Regions from separate parts of the Homo sapiens genome. Here region 2 is linked to region 1. The links come from fine-mapping of genetic effects on gene expression. Tissue or cell type: monocytes after LPS. Region 1 holds a variant in brackets; the other region holds the start of a gene. All regions are shown on one strand. Distances are between the middles of the regions.

Evidence for each region. PIP is the estimated chance that this variant, and not a neighbour inherited with it, causes the effect.
Region 2: TXNDC17 starts here. The variant in region 1 is fine-mapped to the expression of TXNDC17 in monocytes after LPS (Quach 2016, PIP 0.95).

What each region holds. Positions count from the first base shown.
Region 1 is chr17:6,559,462-6,567,562 of GRCh38, reverse strand. No RefSeq gene overlaps it. Among named protein-coding and RNA genes, the nearest start is that of PITPNM3, 7.0 kb to the right of the region's middle. The variant TAG/G (reference allele first, on the strand shown) is at 4,439.
Region 2 is chr17:6,637,123-6,645,223 of GRCh38, reverse strand. TXNDC17 (thioredoxin domain containing 17) reads right to left here and starts at 4,164. Exons shown (of 4, transcript NM_032731.4): 1 at 3,997-4,164; 2 at 3,390-3,471; 3 at 2,900-2,975; 4 at 683-2,273. The coding sequence starts at 4,141. The coding sequence ends at 2,205. KIAA0753 reads left to right here and starts at 4,513. Exons shown (of 19, transcript NM_014804.3): 1 at 4,513-4,587. MED31 (mediator complex subunit 31) reads left to right here. Exons shown (of 4, transcript NM_016060.3): 4 at 565-1,913. The coding sequence ends at 757. LOC122526780 reads left to right here and starts at 4,908. Exons shown (of 1, transcript NM_001396008.1): 1 at 4,908-8,101. The coding sequence starts at 4,908. RefSeq lists enhancers at 3,445-3,504, 3,705-3,974, 4,105-4,986, 5,885-5,954, 6,899-7,680 and 1 more.

The DNA of each region.
Region 1 (8,101 bases):
GGGGCTTGCTTTGGTGAATTGCGTGAGGTTGCACCAGCACTTAGTGGCAGAACCTCAGCCTCTTGGTTTTCTGTGTCTGGTTTTTGTCTTATTTTTTCCTGTCTTCTTCTTCTCTTGTGGCGAAGGCAGGAGTGTGGACATTAGAGGGACTGGGTTTGAATACCTGCTCTACCACTTATTAGCTGTGTGACCTAAATACTTGCTCTTCCACTTATTAGCTGTGAGGCCTTTCTAAGCCTGTTTCCTTATCTGTAAAATGGGAATGGTTCTAAGAATCCCTCCCTCCTAATGTTGCTATAAGGATTCAAAGAGGAAACACGTGAAAAGCACTTAAAACACTTCCAGGCACATAATAGTCACTCAGCAAATATCTATTCCTGTTGTTCTTCTGGTTGTTATTTTTCTTTTCTTTTCTTTTCTTTTTTTTTTTTTTTGAGACGGAGTCTCGCTCTGTCGACCAGGCTGGAGTGCAGTGGCGTGATCTTGGCTCACTGCGAGCTCCGCCTCCCGGGTTCACACCATTCTCCTGCCTCAGCCTCTGGAGTAGCTGGGACTACAGGCGCCTGCCACCGCGCCCGGCTAATTTTTTTGTATTTTTAATAGAGACGGGGTTTCACCATGTTAGCCAGGATGATCTCGATCTCCTGACCTCATGATCCGCCTGCCTCGCTCTCCCAAAGTGCTGGGATTACAGGTGTGAGCCACCACGCCCGGCCGGTTGTTATTTTTCTTAGCGTGCTGCTGCTGTACAGCAGGAGAGAAGTAGAGGCAACAGGAAGAGCTTCCCAGCTGGTAGAGTTAAAGAACTGGAATGGCCTCCTAATAAGTGAAGGGGTTTCTCCCCTACAAGCTTTAAGCCATCAGAGATCTGAAGGTTTTCACAAAGTCCGGAATCGGGGAGAAGGAGGGAAGAACAGAATGACTCTTTTTTTTTTTTTTTTTTTTTTTTTTGAGACATAGCCTTGATCTGTCACCCAGGCTGGAGTGCAATGGCGCCATCTTGGCTCACTGCAACCTCCGCCTCCGGGGTTCAAGCGATTCTCCTGCCTCAGCCTCCCAAGTAGCTGGGATTACAAGCGCTCGCCACCACGCCCGGCTAATTTTTGTATTTTTAGTAGAGACGGGGTTTCACCATGTTGGCCATGATGGTCTCGATCTCCTGACCTCGTGATCTGCCTGCTTGACCTACCAAAGTGCTGGGATTACAGGCGTGAGCCACCATGCCTCGCCCAAAATGACCTTTTCTTAGAGGCTTGCTCCCCACAACAACTGTCTTAGCTTTTATTCAGCAGCTGCCTGTGCTCCCAGCAGTGTGGGGTCCTCTCTTAGGAGTCAGCAACGGTACACTTTCAGGTCTGGGTCAATGGCACAGATTCCGTCTCTGCAGGGTGGGCTGTAGTAGGAGTTTTCATCATATGAATGTGTGATAGTGGGGTGGAGGTTGGGGGGCACCAACACTTATTTCTGTTGTTGCACAGGATGCCTTTCCATGCCGACAGCTCACACAACCCACTCTTCTCCCCTGCCTTCTGGGAGGGTTGTGGTGGGCACCACTGCACTTAAACTGGAGGAGAGAGATGAAATTTCTTTTTTTTTTTTTTAATTTTTTTTGAGACAGAGTCTCGCTCTGTTGCCTAGGCTGGAGTGCAGTGGCGTGATCTCAGCTCACTGCAACCTCTCCCTCCCGGGTTCAAGTGATTCTCCTGCCTCAGCCTCCTGAGTAGCTGGGATTACAGGCGCCCACCACCATGCCCAGCTAATTTTTGTATTTTTAGTCACCATGTTGGGCAGGCTGGTCTTGAACTCCTGACCTTAGGTGTTTTGCCCATCTCAGCCTCCCAAAGTGCTGGGATTACAGGCGTGAGCTACTGCACCCGGCCGAGAGATGAAATTTCTATCCCAGGGCAGAGGTTCCTGCTCAGTGAGACTGCAGCCACCCTGCTGGCTCTGCAGGAGACTCTGAGGAGAGGCAGTGGGCCCTGGAGTGTTCTGGCCAGGGGAGCCCTAGGTAGATTGCAAGACACTTGCTTTTTTTTTTTTTTTTTTTTTTTTTTTGGAGGAGTTTTACTCTTGTCGCCCAGGCTGGAGTGCAATGGTGCAGTCTTGGTTCACTGCAACCTCTGCCTCCTGGGTTCAAGCAATTCTCCTGCCTCAACCTCCTCAGTAGCTTGGATTACAGGTGCCTACCATCCATGCCCTGCTAATTTTTTTAATTTTTTTTTTTATTGTTAGTAGAGGTGGAGTTTCACCATGTTGGCTAGGCTGGTCTTGAACTCCTGACCTCAGGTGATTCGCCCGCTGCCTCAGCCTCCCAGAGTGCTGGGATTACAGGCACGAGCCACCATGCTCGGCCTCAAGACTCTTGGTTTCTAAAACTAGTGCTCACTTTTCCTGCTCTGGGCTTGGGGTTTACCATCCTTCAAATGAAGGGACCAGCAGAACAGCCTCTCGAGAGGGCAGTTTGGCGATGAGTTATTTAGGGAGGCGGAATGTGGAATTCCCTATGGCCCGACAATTCCAACGCTGTGTGAGAGCCCCAGAGAGGTTCTCACATGGGAACACAAGAAGTGCACGGGCTGTTTGCTGCAGCACCGTTTGTAACAGCGAGGAACTATGAGACCTAATTGGTCCTTTAGAGGAGATTAGAAAAATAAAATGAGGTATATCACACAACCAAATAGTATGCAGCAGTCAAAAGGAACAAGCCAAATCTACAAATACTAATGTGGATTCATCTCAAAAAACAATACTAAAGGGGAAAGTAAGAAGCAGAATATGCTGTCCCCATGGTGACATTCCGTAATGTTTGAAATACATACATACGAGTATGTAACACTCATGCATACATACAGATGGGGAAAAGCTTTAGAAAGCAGATTGGGAGGCCAGGTGTGGTGGCTCACGCCTGTAATCCCAAAACTGTGGGAGGCCAAGGCGGGCAGATCACCTGAGGTCAGGAGTTCGAGACCGGCCTGGTCAACATGGTGAAACACATCTCTACTAAAAATAGAAAAATTAGCTGGGCGTGGTGGCCAGCGCCTATAATCCCAGGTACTCGGGAGGCTGAAGCAGGAGAATCACTTGAACCTGGGAGGCGGAGGTTACAGTGAGCCGAGATCTCGCTACTGTACTCCAGAATGAGACTCCATCTCAAAAAAAAAAAAAGAAAAGAAAGAAAAGAAAAAAAATGAAAGTAGTTTGGGAAATGTGCAAATTCAAAGTAGACCCCTGGAGGAGAGGAATAGAATGGGGTTTGGGGACTAATGATAGACTGTGCCCAGACTGGGGGGAGATGCCATGTGGGGTAGCACTGTACCACCAGTCCTATGATAGCCTACCATGTGCACCTTAGGTTAAAACAAAGTCAAGATGGTTTGGATCCAGGTGATCCCACGGGATCTTCTGACACTGCCATGTTGGTTTCTCTGGGACCTGGATAGCACAGCCACAGCTGGAACCAAAACAATGGGCTCCAGAGTGAGGACCTCGGAGAGTAGCAGAGCCTGAAAGGAAACCTGTAGCCAAGGCAAAGGTGCAAGCACCATAAGACGTGGAGATAGTAAACCAGATGCAGAGAAAGTCACCATCTATTTTTTTTTTTTTTTTTTGAGACAGAGTCTCGCTCTGTCGCCCAGGCTGGAGTGCAGTGGCACGATCTTGGCTCACTGCAACCTCCGCCTCCCAGGTTCAAGCGATTCTCCTGCCTCAGCCTCCCAAGTAGCTGGGACTACAGGCACCCGCCACCACACCCAGCTAATTTTTGTATTTTTAGTAGAGGCGGGGTTTCACCATGTTGGCCAGGCTGGTCTCGAGCTCCTGACCTCGTGATCCGCCCACCTCGGCCTCCCAAAGTTCTGGGATTACAGGCGTGAGCCACAGTGCCCGGCCACCTTCTATTAAAATCATCATTTTACATGATCTGATTGTGATTTTCTGCCCTTGTCCAACACTGTTTTGTTAGTAATCAGGCAGCTTTCCCCCCTTGATCTGTCTGCCTTATCATCTACCACTGTATTTGATTTTCTGAGTTTTGGGATCTGTCAGGAACAAACAATATTGTGTGTGAGGCTGGGGCAGGGGAGGGACACGGCTGAGGTCAGAGCCTCTGGATTTGCTTGTTCCTCGGCACCCAGTGCTGATGGGAATTTGCAGGAATGCAGACACAAAGAGCCCATCCTGCAGAGAGTTTTAGATTTTCACCCAGTTTCTAATTTTAATTTGGTCTAAGTGTAACTTCAAGACAACTGGGCTTGCTTGGGGCCAATCTCAAGTCTTGACAGCAAACAAGCGCAAAACGCAGGTCCAACTGCCAAAGCTTTGTGAGCGAGATAAATTGTTGCTGACATTTTCGGGGGCAGATAGGAGGGCTCCACAGCAGAACCTATTGGGCAGCCTGATTAAGCTCTTTCCTCATAATTCCTCTCCTTACGGCAGCTGC[TAG/G]ATTTCTCCTTGCCTCTACCCAACCACCCCTCAGCCTCTCCAGATCCCCTCTCCAAAATCCCATCTACCAGCACACCCCATTCAATAAGGCTAAAGCAAGCTAAACAGCAACTGAGAAAACGCAATCCAGGCTTGGGCCTCAACTTATTTCAGCATCTCAAATAAAAAGCTGGGCCAGGCGTGGTGGCTCACGCCTGTAATCCCAACACTTTGGGAGGCTGAGGCGGGTAGATCACTTGAGGTCAGGAGTTCGAGACCAGCCTGGCCAACATGGTGAAACCCCATCTCTACTAAAAATACAAAAATTAGCTGGGTATGGTGGCTTGTGCCTGTAATCTCAGCTACTCAGGAGGCTGAGGCCGGAGAATTGCTTGAACCTGAGAGGCGGAGGTTGCAGTGAGCTGAGATGGGGCCACTGTACTCCAGCCTGGGTGACAGAGCGAGACTCTGTCTCAAATTAAAAAATAAAAAATAAATAAATAAATAATCTGATGAGGTCCAGTTCAACAGATTCTGCAGATGTCTCCAGACATGTTTTGAAAACACAGCGGAAACACGCACATGTATGTTTTCTAGATTTTGCCGCCCACTGTGGTGAGAATAAAGGGGGAATGCAGTCTCATGTAAAGACAGAACATTTTGCTTGGTCTGCTCCGTGGGGGGTCTGTCTTGGGTAGGGGGGTCCTTACACATGGGGGTCTGGGGCTCACCTAAAAGGTCACGTGTTAACCTTAAGGGAATCTTCCTGCCCCTGCAGGAAATCACACATAAGACGGTGGTGGCCAGTGCCTTCTTTACAGCATCTGCCTTGAGGGTGAAGCCACAGCTGTCAACGTAACTGCTGAGAATGGACTCACCAGAGGGGATTAAGACAGGCAGGTCCTAGCCCTTCTTGGGGTCGAAGGTAGAAGCACACACTAGATTGGCTGGGCACGGTGGCTCACACCTGTAATCCCAGCATTTTGGGAGGCCGAGGCAGGCAGATCACTTGAGGTCAGGAGTTCAAGACCAACCTGGCCCAACATGGTGAAACCCTGTCTCTACTAAAAATACAAACATTAGCTGGGTGTCTAGTCCCAGCTACTCAAGAGGCTGGGGCAGAAGAATCGCTTGAACCCCAGATGTGGAGGTTGCAGTGAGCTGCGATTGTGCCCCTGCACTCCAGCCTGGGTGACAGAGTGGGACTCCATCTCAAAAAAAAAAAAAAAAAAAAGAGCACACACTAGATAAGCCACAGCCACCAGCAGGGAAAAGGAAAAGGTGGAGGAAGAGGAAGAGGATGGGAAGAGGAGGAGGAAGGGGAAGAGAAGGGGAGGAGGAAGAGGAAGAGGAGGAGGAGGGTAGGAGAAGGAGGAAGAGGAGGAGGGGAGAAAGAAGAGGAGAAGGAGGAAGAGGCAGAAGGGAGGAGGAGGAAGAGGAGGAGGAGGAAGGGGAAGAGGAAGGGAGAGGAGGAAGAGGAGGGGGAGGGGAGGAGGAAGAGGAAGAGGAGGAAGAGGGAAGGAGGAAGAGGAGGGAAGGAGGGAGGGAGAAGGAGGAAGAGGAGGGAAGGAGGATGAGGAGAAGGAGGAAGAGGGGAGGAGGATGAGGAAGAGGAGGAGGGGAGGAGGAGGGGAGAAGGAGGAAGAGGAGGAGGAGGAGGAGGAAGAGGAGGAGGGGAGAAAGAAGAGGAGAAGGAGGAAGAGGAAGGGAGAAGGAGGAGGAAGAGGAGGAGGGGAGAACAAAGAGAAGGAGGAGGAAGAGGAGGAGGAGGAAGAGGGGGAGGAGGAGGAGAAGGAAGAGGAGGAGGAGGGGAGAAAGAAGAGAAGGAGGAAGAGGCAGAAGAAGGGAGAAGGAGGAGGAAGAGGAGGAGGAGGGGAGAAGGAAGAGGAGAAGGAGGAAGGGGAAGAGGAAGGGAGAGGAGGAGGAAGAGGAGGGGGAGGGGAGGAGGAAGAGGAGGGGGAGGGGAGGAGGAAGAGGAGGAAGGGGGGAGGAGGAGGAGAAGGAGGAAGAGGAGGGAAGGAGGGGGGAGAAGGAGAAGGAGGAAGAGGAAGGGAGAAGGAGGAGGAAGAGGAGGAGGAGGGGAGAATGAAGAGGAGAAGGAGGAAGAGGAAGGGAGAAGGAGGAGGAAGAGGAGGAGGAGGGGAGAATGAAGAGAAGGAGGAAGAAGAGGGGAGGAGGAAGAGGAGGAAGAGGGGAGGAGGAGGAAAAGGAGGAAGAGGAGAGAAGGAGGATGAGAAGGAGGAAGAGGAGGGGCGGAGGAGGAGGAAGAGGAGAAGAAAGAGGAGGAGGAAAAGGAGGGGAGGAGGAGGAAGAAGAAGAGGAAGAAGACAAGGAGGAGGAAGAGGAGGAGAAGGAGGAGAATGAGAAAGGAGGAGGAAGAGGAGGAGAAGGAGGACAATGAGAAGGAGGAGGAGAAGGAGGAGGAGGAAGAGGAGGAGAAGAGAGAGAATGAGAAGGAGGATAATGAGAGGAGGAGGAAGAGGAGGAGGGGAGGAGGAGGAGGAGGAGGACTACGAGGAAGAGGAGAAGGAGGAGGAAGAGGAGAAGGAGAAGGAAGAGAATGAGGAGGAGGAAGAGGAGGAGGAGGAAGAGGAGGAGGAAGAGGAGGAGAAGGAAGAGGAGGAGGAGGACGAGGAGAAGAGTAGTTCTGGATGGAAGGGCATGTTCCACTCAGTGTTCTGGATGCTGGGTGGAATTGGGGGCATCCTGGGGCAAGGAGGAGACGGTGACAAGAAACCAGCTACTCTCAGAACAATTCTGTAAGACTCCAAGGAAGAGCAACTGTGTCTGGGACTACTTTTATGATTAGGGGTGGTTCCCATGGCAGTGGACAGCAACCATGACACTTTAAAGCATAGGAACCAGAAAGGAGGGGGTGAAGAAGGGTACATAGGCTGGGAAATACATCAGGAAGGGGTGCTTCCAGTGGTCCAGGTGAGACATAGTGATGTGATATTGGCCAGGGAGTGAGACTCAAGGACAAAAGGGGCTGTGGAAATTTACAAGTGGGAGTGAACACTCCTAGCTGGATGTTTGTGTTTGGCCTGGGAGGATGGCCCCACTTGCTTGTCCATGTTCATGTCATCCTCTTGGCTTTGGCCCATGGTTCCAGTTTGTCAAGGCCATGGTGATTGGGTTTGGCCCGTGGTCCCAGCTTGTCAAGGCCATGGTGAACAGCCGTGCATCTGTCCAGTCTGCATGAGCAGCGTCCTTCTTACACAGCTTATTCTCTGTTGTGAGCACTTGCGCTGAGATGCTTGACATGGCTCAAGTCCTGGAGGGAGGTGGAGGCTCCCTCCACTGGAGCCCATCAGGGAGTGGACCGGGGTAAGCCACTTGACCAGGCTATCTTCTTGCTCCTGACTCCCTTTGTTGTTTACAAAGTTACTGTCAGAGAGCTGGGCAGCAGCCGTGCCCCAACCCAGGCCCAGAAGGCAAGGCGATGCCCAACTCCACTAGTCGTTATAACCGTGTCCAAATAGGAAATGAGCTTTGCCTGGCATGACTAGCTTTCAGGGGGGCCATGTTGGCTCCTAGGAACTGTCACTTAGCTTTCCAAGTGCTCACACCAGCTGTCCAGGCTGGATAGCCAGGCCTGGGGTCTGCCATGTCGAGGAGTTGTCTTGCAGCCAGCTCCCACTCCTTACCCACCTGGAGCTCTCCAACCTGTCCACATCTCTGC
Region 2 (8,101 bases), 78 kb before region 1:
TCCATGTCTATAACTCCTTTTCTGATAGCCAGAAATTTGGCTGTCCTTATCCACAGTATATTTGCTTGTCCAATCCTAGAGTATATCTAATTTCAGAATTGGTATATCCCTGTGGACAACAAGAGTACAATGTATGCGCATAGTCCTCTTTCACACTCACTTTTAAATGAAAGTTGTCTTTTTATCCCTATTGAAGGAAAAATGAGTAACTATCAATTAAACACATAATTACTAAAATATGTTCATGTTCTTCACGTTGGAAACCGCTAGAAGGGAATAGCATGGTTTGTCCCTAAATTTTCACTCTGCTTACCAGTTACTGTGTTGTGTGGTCTTGAGCAAGTTAATTTAATCTTTCTGAACTTAAACCTTCTCATTTTCGAAAATATTGAACACTGACCTTTGATGACTAATCGGGGAAAAAACCCTATGCTACCAGAGTGTACTAAGTTACTGTTATAGAAATGGTAGGCTACAAGATCGTTTTTAAGAGAATAACTGAATTATACCTTGGCATTATTTACCTAAATTATGTTGTTCATTCACTTACAAACTTAAACCCAGGTACCCTCAGTGTTTACACATGTTAGAGCTGCTCCAATATGAACACTTCCGAAAGGAGCTGGTGAATGCTCAGTGTGCGAAATTTATTGATGAACAGCAGATTCTACATTGGCAGCACTATTCCCGGAAGCGGATGCGCCTTCAGCAAGCCTTGGCAGAGCAGCAACAGCAAAATAACACATCGGGAAAATGAAAAACTGGATACAAACGAGGCACTTAATACATGTATATAATGTATTTCTTTTGTACAGTGAAGACAAAAAAAATGAAAACTCTTCCTATCTACCTTTATTATGGTAGCCCCTAGAACCTTTAGTGTGCTTTTTCATCCAACTTTTTATTGTTAATAGACTATTTCTGTTAAACCTGAATTGTTCTTTGATTTCCCTGTGGATTTGTAAGGTGTTTTTCTTTTTTACGCATTTAGCATAATCAGCTGATTAAGAATGGAAAAGTTAGGTGCTTTAGACCAAATAAGGCACTGGGGCATGGGGTAGGGGTGGGCCACCAAGTATACTGAATTCTAAGGCTAGCTGTTCCTGACATATAGTAGGGCAAGACCATCTCCTGGAACCTTACTGTCTCAGATCAACTACTCTACCACTCTACTCTAAGATGTAGTGAGAGTAGCGGAGTCACTGACCTCTTTAAATCATAGGACAGGAACTGCATAAAGGTTCTTGAATTCTGCAGGACAGGAAATAACTGTATTACCTGCTTTGCAAGGTGGCTTTAAGAATCACTGAATCACTGTGGCCTCACTTGACCTAGTCATGGCAGGACAACTAGTGGTTAGTTACTAACTGGACTCTTGACTTTAGAACAAACATGAGGAGCCTCAAATACTTGTGTTCATTTGGGAAAGCTACCATTGATTTGGGAGGTACCACAAACCAGGTGCTATGTTAAGTGCTTCCTTGAATTCTCATTTTATTCTAAGAACCTTGTTTATAGAAGAGAAAACTGAGGTTTGGACGGGGTGAGTAACTTGCCTGTGGTTACACAGCTAGTAAGTGGTAGAGTCAGTGTGACTGACTCCCAGCTTGGAGTTCTTCCCAGAACTGGGTTATAGAGTCTTTCCGGCCGCTCTCCGCCACCTGCCTCATCCCAAGTAAAGCACATTGAGACAGCTGCAAAACAAACTGCTTCTAGTGCTCAGGAGTCTGTTTTTTATTAAACAAAACAAAACTGCCTGAATTAAGCAGAGGCTAGATTAGAGGTCATGTGCTTTCCTTCAGTGGTGAGGTTAGGTTCTACATTCCAAAATCAAAGAAGGGGTTTCAGGAATATCATCAGTTGCTTTGCAGATGGAGATAACTTAAAATAAAAGATACTGATCTTTTGAGAGATTTGGAAGGTGTGCTCTGCACCTTTAGGAGTTTTTAGGTATTTCCGTCACCTTCAAGAATACGTTCCTTTGAGCCTTTACTGCTATTTCTGAAGACTTCTTTATATCTTAAAAATATCCATGTATTACAGGCAAACTAAAGGTTCATGGGCATTTTAATAGCACTCTATTGTTTAGACACATGCCAGTTTTTTTAACATCATTTATTGCTAACATGAATTCAAAGCAAGTATACAGTTTATTGATACTAGAACAAATCAGGACATCAAGACATGATTGCCATCCTAAAATCTTAATCTTCAGAGAACAACATTTCCACCAGGTTGGCCTGAAGACACTCAGATTCTACCAGTTTTTGAGGCTGTAAGAGAAAAACAGTCAAATCTTCACTACTTCTATAAAACGTTATTAGGAGTGGAATGAGTTCTGCCTTGAATGACACTCATCTTTGAACACAGAAATTACGCAATTCAGAAACTATCATCTAGTTATAACAAGTTTTATGAAAGAATCAATATATTTGCTGTAAGATGAATCACTAACATACTTGGCTCAAGAGACTTAAACCCCAAATACCAGGAAGCTCCACAGACTAAAACAGGAGACAGCAAGCCCAGTGCCCTCTTCTTCCCCTCAACTCTTTAATTTAGGATCCCAGGGGCATGACTGAACTAGAAGAGATGCCCTTACTTTTTAACCAGAATTATGAATTAAACAGAAAACAACTGTTGATGCAAATGTTTTAAGGAATTATGAGTCAACCTACTTTCTGGTTTTTTAAGAGTGACTTAACATGAAAAAGACCTAATAGCTAGATATTTACATTATCAGTTTATTGGGATTGGCCATAGGAATGGACTTTCAGCAGCACTCTGAACAACAATGGAATTGAGATGAAATGTCAAGATCTTTTCAAATCTGGATCCACAGCAAGTTAAAAGAGTTCTGACAGTGAATTACAGGCCCAGCATATTTAAAGATACTTACTGTTCCATACTTAAGTAGTGTAGGCACTGCTGTTACTTTCAAGTTTTTTCTGAAGTCATTATTTGGATCTTTCCAACTATTCGAAAAGAAAAAGTGATCATGAAAAAAATTTACTTGGTTTATTACAGTTTGCTTAATATTTGACATAGTCCTACATTTAATTTTTTAGTAATCACTGTTCTTGCAAACACTTAAAAAACCTTGCGGACTATGGCTTAATCTACTAATTACCCTGTGCAAAGTTTCAAAGTGTGACTAAGATATAAAAGTAAAGCCAGCTAAGTTCTGGGCTTACACCAGACCAAATTCGTTGAATTACCCTTACTTAATTCAGGTGGGCATTTTAAATTTGTATTTAATAGCTTCTAATTGTTTAACTTGTCAGACATTACCTTGTAAGACAAACTGGGTAAGTAAGTCCCTGAGGCCCTTCCCGCCTAAGTATGCAATTTGTGCACGTCTGCGAGGTAGATTATACATTGCCACTTACTAAGGCTTTTCTCCTACTTGGCAGTAGATGAACACACATCCTTCACTAATGTGCTTCAGCCCCTCTCGTACGACTGGTTCAGCTTTAAAAAAAGTTGAGATAAAATAATCGCACGTCAACTCTACAATCAGGCACGTATAAACTGTGTTCTTTCCCCCTTCCCCCAGTCTTGGTAAGCACTCAGACTTTAACCTGCAGCTAACTGAAGAGGTCAACACAAGTCAGGTGTTCCCTTCTGGTCTTAGAGCCACGTTAAGGGTAAGGACCAAATCCCAGTCCCGATTTGCCCCTGCACCACCGCGCCCGTAACAATGGAAAGCACATGTATTTGCTGACCAACTCACGTATCCTGTAAGACACTAATGGTACTGGGGGAGTGAGAAGTTTTAAGGAACTAGATTCCAAGATCATCCGGGTAAGGTGGTAAAAGGAAGAGCGCTCTTGGCAGGGCGGGGTAGGATTTAATAGAAGGAGACTTGGGGACAGCTCAGATTGCTCCGCGGATGTCTGGAACCAAGACTCTGCCTCCGCTAAGCCCCCCTTCTGGCCGTAGGCTCGACCTTCCTGCCATTTCCATTGGACAGCAGCCCCCGAATCCCGGCCTCACCCTGCACGCAGTCGGGGCACCAGCTTTTCCCCCCGGCGTCCTTAGAACCCGTAAAGTAGGCGAAAATGGTCTTGCCATTGTGCTGTTCCACGGCCCGGTGGAACTCCTCGAAGCCGGACACGCTCACCTCCTCATAGCGGGCCATTGGCACGACGTGCAGCCGCTACTGGAGGAGTGCACGTCCGGTCGCCGCGGTTGGGTCCCGCGTAGGCGGGGCGAGGCTGTTTCCGGGTGGGCAAGAGAGGGCGGAGCCTGCGGAAGCCAGCGCCGCTAAAGACTACGGGAGCCTCTGACGACCACAATCCATCCGCATGGCTTTTTGCTCTAGTTCCTCAGATCTTTCTGCGCTAGCTGCACTCCCAAGCCCAGGCTTAGATCTACCCTAATCTAGTCCCAGCCCCGACCTCATGGACACTGGCTGCAAAACTTACCGCCTTGCAACACCTGGATCCTTAAATAGTTCAGGGCCTCAAAGGCTCCCAAGCCGCCCTGCGCCTGTTGCTATGGCGACTGGGCAGGCGGCCGGAAGCGCGGCCTTGTTGGGGGCCCCCGTTGCCCGCCTCCCAGTAGCCGCGCCTCACCCTAGGCCAGGTGGGCTCGGGCCGGGGCTGGGGGGGATTCTGGGAAGCCGCATAGAGTCATGGACTTGGGGGAGAGGAGATCTGACTCGGAAAGCCTTTGTTGCTTTGTCCCCCCAGTTACCTTTTCTGCCGTCTAGGCTTTACGGGGGCCTGGGACTGGGGGCGGGTTCCCGAGACTGGGCGGGGGTGGGATGGGTGAGGGGCTCGGAGGGAGAAAGGCTGCAAGGCCGGAGCGGAGTGTGTGAGTGCGTGTGTGGAGCAGCTTAGGGAGCGAGGTGCTAAGACATCCCCCAGGGCCGCGGTAGGGAGGAAGGGAACTGCCCTGGAGCTATGAGCCGGGAGACTCGCCGTGGGGCCTTGCCCAGGCTGCGCCGGGGAGAGCAGGCGGCTAAGATGCCGGGTCGCTGCGTGGGGCCCAGCAGGTCGGGGCGGGGGGTTCGGCGGCCGTGGGGGAAGAGACGGGGCGCAGGGACGTCCCGAGGCCGTGGAGCAAGGCGCCGGGCGAAGCCCTCGGAGTGGGAGACGCGCTGTGTGAGTGCAGAAAGGCCACAGGGCCGTCAGCGGCCATGGGGGACGAGACAAGCGGCGGAGACAGCCGACGCCGCCGGGGCGAATGAGGCTTTGGGAGCTCCTGGGACCCCAGGCTCCATCGAGGCTGCAAGGGACCCTGGGGCTGTGTGGGTGAACGGGGCTGTGGGGGAGCCCGAGGTGGTGGGGCTTGCCGGGGCTGTGTGGGTGACCGGGTCTGGGGAGGAGGAGACCGAAGATAGAAGTCCCCGGGGCTGCGAGAGAAAAGGTCGCCCGGGATCTCTGGGCCATGAGAGCATTCTGCACCTGTGGCTGAAGGTGCAGGCTATGAGGGCCGCCTCGGGATGTGGGGAAGGAAGTAGAGTCGAGCTCCATCCCGTGCCTGCAGGAGAGGGACCTGTCGAAAGGGGTGTTCCTGGCCGAGCTTCCTGGGTAGAGACAAGCCGCGGCGGTCTTACAGGGCCCTGGGTGAAGGAACAGGCAAGGGGGATCCCTCGGGCCCCCTCAGGGCCCACAGCTCTGGGCTTAGGGGCAGCTTACGAGAGAGCCTTAGGCTTCTGTGGACAGGGACAGGCTGGGAGGGTGCCTCCTGCGAGTGTGCCTGGGGCTTTGGCGTCAAGTTCTGAAATGGCCCCGCACCTGTGGAGGGGAGAAGCTGTGGGGGTTCCTGAGACTGGGGAGGAGATAGGCTATGGGTTTGTCTCAGGCCCTTGTGAAAAAGAACAGACTATGGGCGAGCCTGGGACCGTGGGGTGGACTGGGGCTGTGGGAGCGCCCAGAGCCATGGAGGGAGAGCTCGGCTGTGGCGGTGCTGCAGGTCTGTGGGGGAGAGGACAGTCCCCGCAGATTCCTGGGGCTCTGACACATGAAGCAGTCTGTGGGGCCACCCCTGGCGTATGGGGGAGGGGACAGGCTGTGGGGGTGTCCGATGCTGTGGAGGAGGAGCCTACTTCTGTGGGTGCCGCAGGTGTGTGTTACAGGAGACAGGCTGTGGAGGAGACAGACTCTGTGGGTATGCCCGGCCCGTGGGGCACAGGATACTCTGTTGGGGTGCCCTGTGCTGCTGAAGAGGAAACTAGATGTGGAGGTGACCCAGGGTTCAGGGAAAGGGGACAGCCTGTGTGGGTGGAGACAGGCTCTGGGGGTGATCCAGGGTCACGGGGAGCTGCGCAGACTGCAGAGTCATCATGTCCTGGGGAGCAGGCAGCAGGTTCTGGGGGTGCCCCAGGCCTGTGGGGGATACAACAGGCTACAGGGGTACCCAGGGCCTTGGGGAAGGACACGGGCTGTGTGAGTGTCCCAGGGCTGTGGGGAGCGGGACAGATGGTAAGGGTGCCCCAGGCTGTGGTGGTACCTGGAGCCCTGGGAGAAGAGCTGAGCCACAGCGGGGGCCTGGGCCTGTGGGACGGACAGCAAGCTCTTGGGGGGCCCCCAGCCGAGGCAGTGCCTGGGCTTGGAGAGGAGACCTGTAGTGGGAATGTTCTGAGCCCGTGGGAAAGGAGGCAGGCTGTGGGGGAGCCAGAGAGTCTGGGGCCTCCAGCTTTAGGGGTCCCTGGGTCAGTGGATCAGGAGGCTGGCTGTGGAGATGTTGCATGTCAGTGTGGGAGGAGGCAGGCTGTGGGGGTGTCTGAGACGGTGGGCATACCCAGGGCAGCAGATGTGCCCCGGCAGGGGTGTGCCGCAGCAGGGGTCCTCATGGCAATGGGTGTGCCCGGCTCTGGAAAGGTGCCTGCCAGAGTGCCTGCTGCTGTGTGGGCGTCTGGTCCTGTGTGTCAGGAAGGCAGCTCTAGAGACATTTTGAACCTGTGGGAAAGGACTCGGGCTGCCAGAATATCTGTGGCTTCGGGGGGACCCGTGGCTCGGGAGGAGCTGTGGTCTGGCGGGGAGGAATCCGTGGCTTCAGGGGGACCCGTGGCTCAGGAGGAGCTGTGGTCAGGCGGGGAGGAATCCGTGGCTTCAGGGGGACACGTGGCTCGGGAGAAGCTGTGGTCTGGCGGGGAGGATTGTGGTTCTGGGGCCTTCCCGGGCCCATGGGGGAGGAGACAGACTATTGGGGTTCCTGTGGTGCCTGAGGGGCCTGGGCTTGGGGGGGAGACTGACTCTGGGGGTATCCCAAGACCCTGGGGACAGAGACAGAGGGTCAGGGCTCCTGTGGCCACCGAAGTCCTTCTGGCTCCTAGGGTGCCTGGTTCTGTGGAGCTGGAGCCTGGTGATGGAGGCTTTTCAGGCTTGTCAGGGAGGCAGCAAACTGCAGGAATGCCTGGCACTGTGGGGCTGTCTGCAGCTAGTGGGGTGCCCGTGGCTCCCAGGGTGCCTAGGCCTGTGCAAGAGGAAACTGGCTCAGAATTGTGGGGTGAAAGAGAGACAGTGGGCGGACCTGCAGATGCCAAGGGTCCCACAAGGATGGAGGTGCCCACCTCGACCAGGATGCCTGGGCCCATGGCGGAGAAGACTGGCTCTGGGGGTGTCTCAGGTTTGTTGGGAGGCAGACAGACTACAGGAGTGTCCATGGCTGTGGGGCTGCTGGGGTCTGTGGGGGAGGGGACCATCTTTGAGCATGTCTCTGGCCTGTCTGGAAGAAGGCAGACTGCTGGGAGGCCTGTGGCTGCTAGAGGTTCCATGGCCGTGGGAGTGCCCACAGCTCCCGGGCTTCCAGGGCCAATGGTAGGGGATACGGGCTCTGGGGATGACGGCTCAGGCATATGGGGAAGGAGACTGGCCACTGAGGGGCCCACAGCTGCCAGGGTTCCTGGACCTGTGGAGGGGGAGACAGGCTCTGAAGGTGTCTCAGGCCTGTGGAGAAGGAGACACGGTGGAGCCATTCCCGAGGCCGGGAGGGTGCCTCTGCCTCTGGGGGTGCTTGCAGCTGTAGGAGCTCCCATGGCAGGGCGTGCGCCTGCTGCGGTGTGGGTGACTGGGTCCTCAGGAGCAGAAGCGGACGTGGGTGTCTCAGGTCTGACCGTGCTGAGGAGACAGTCCACAGGGGGAGTGGGGGC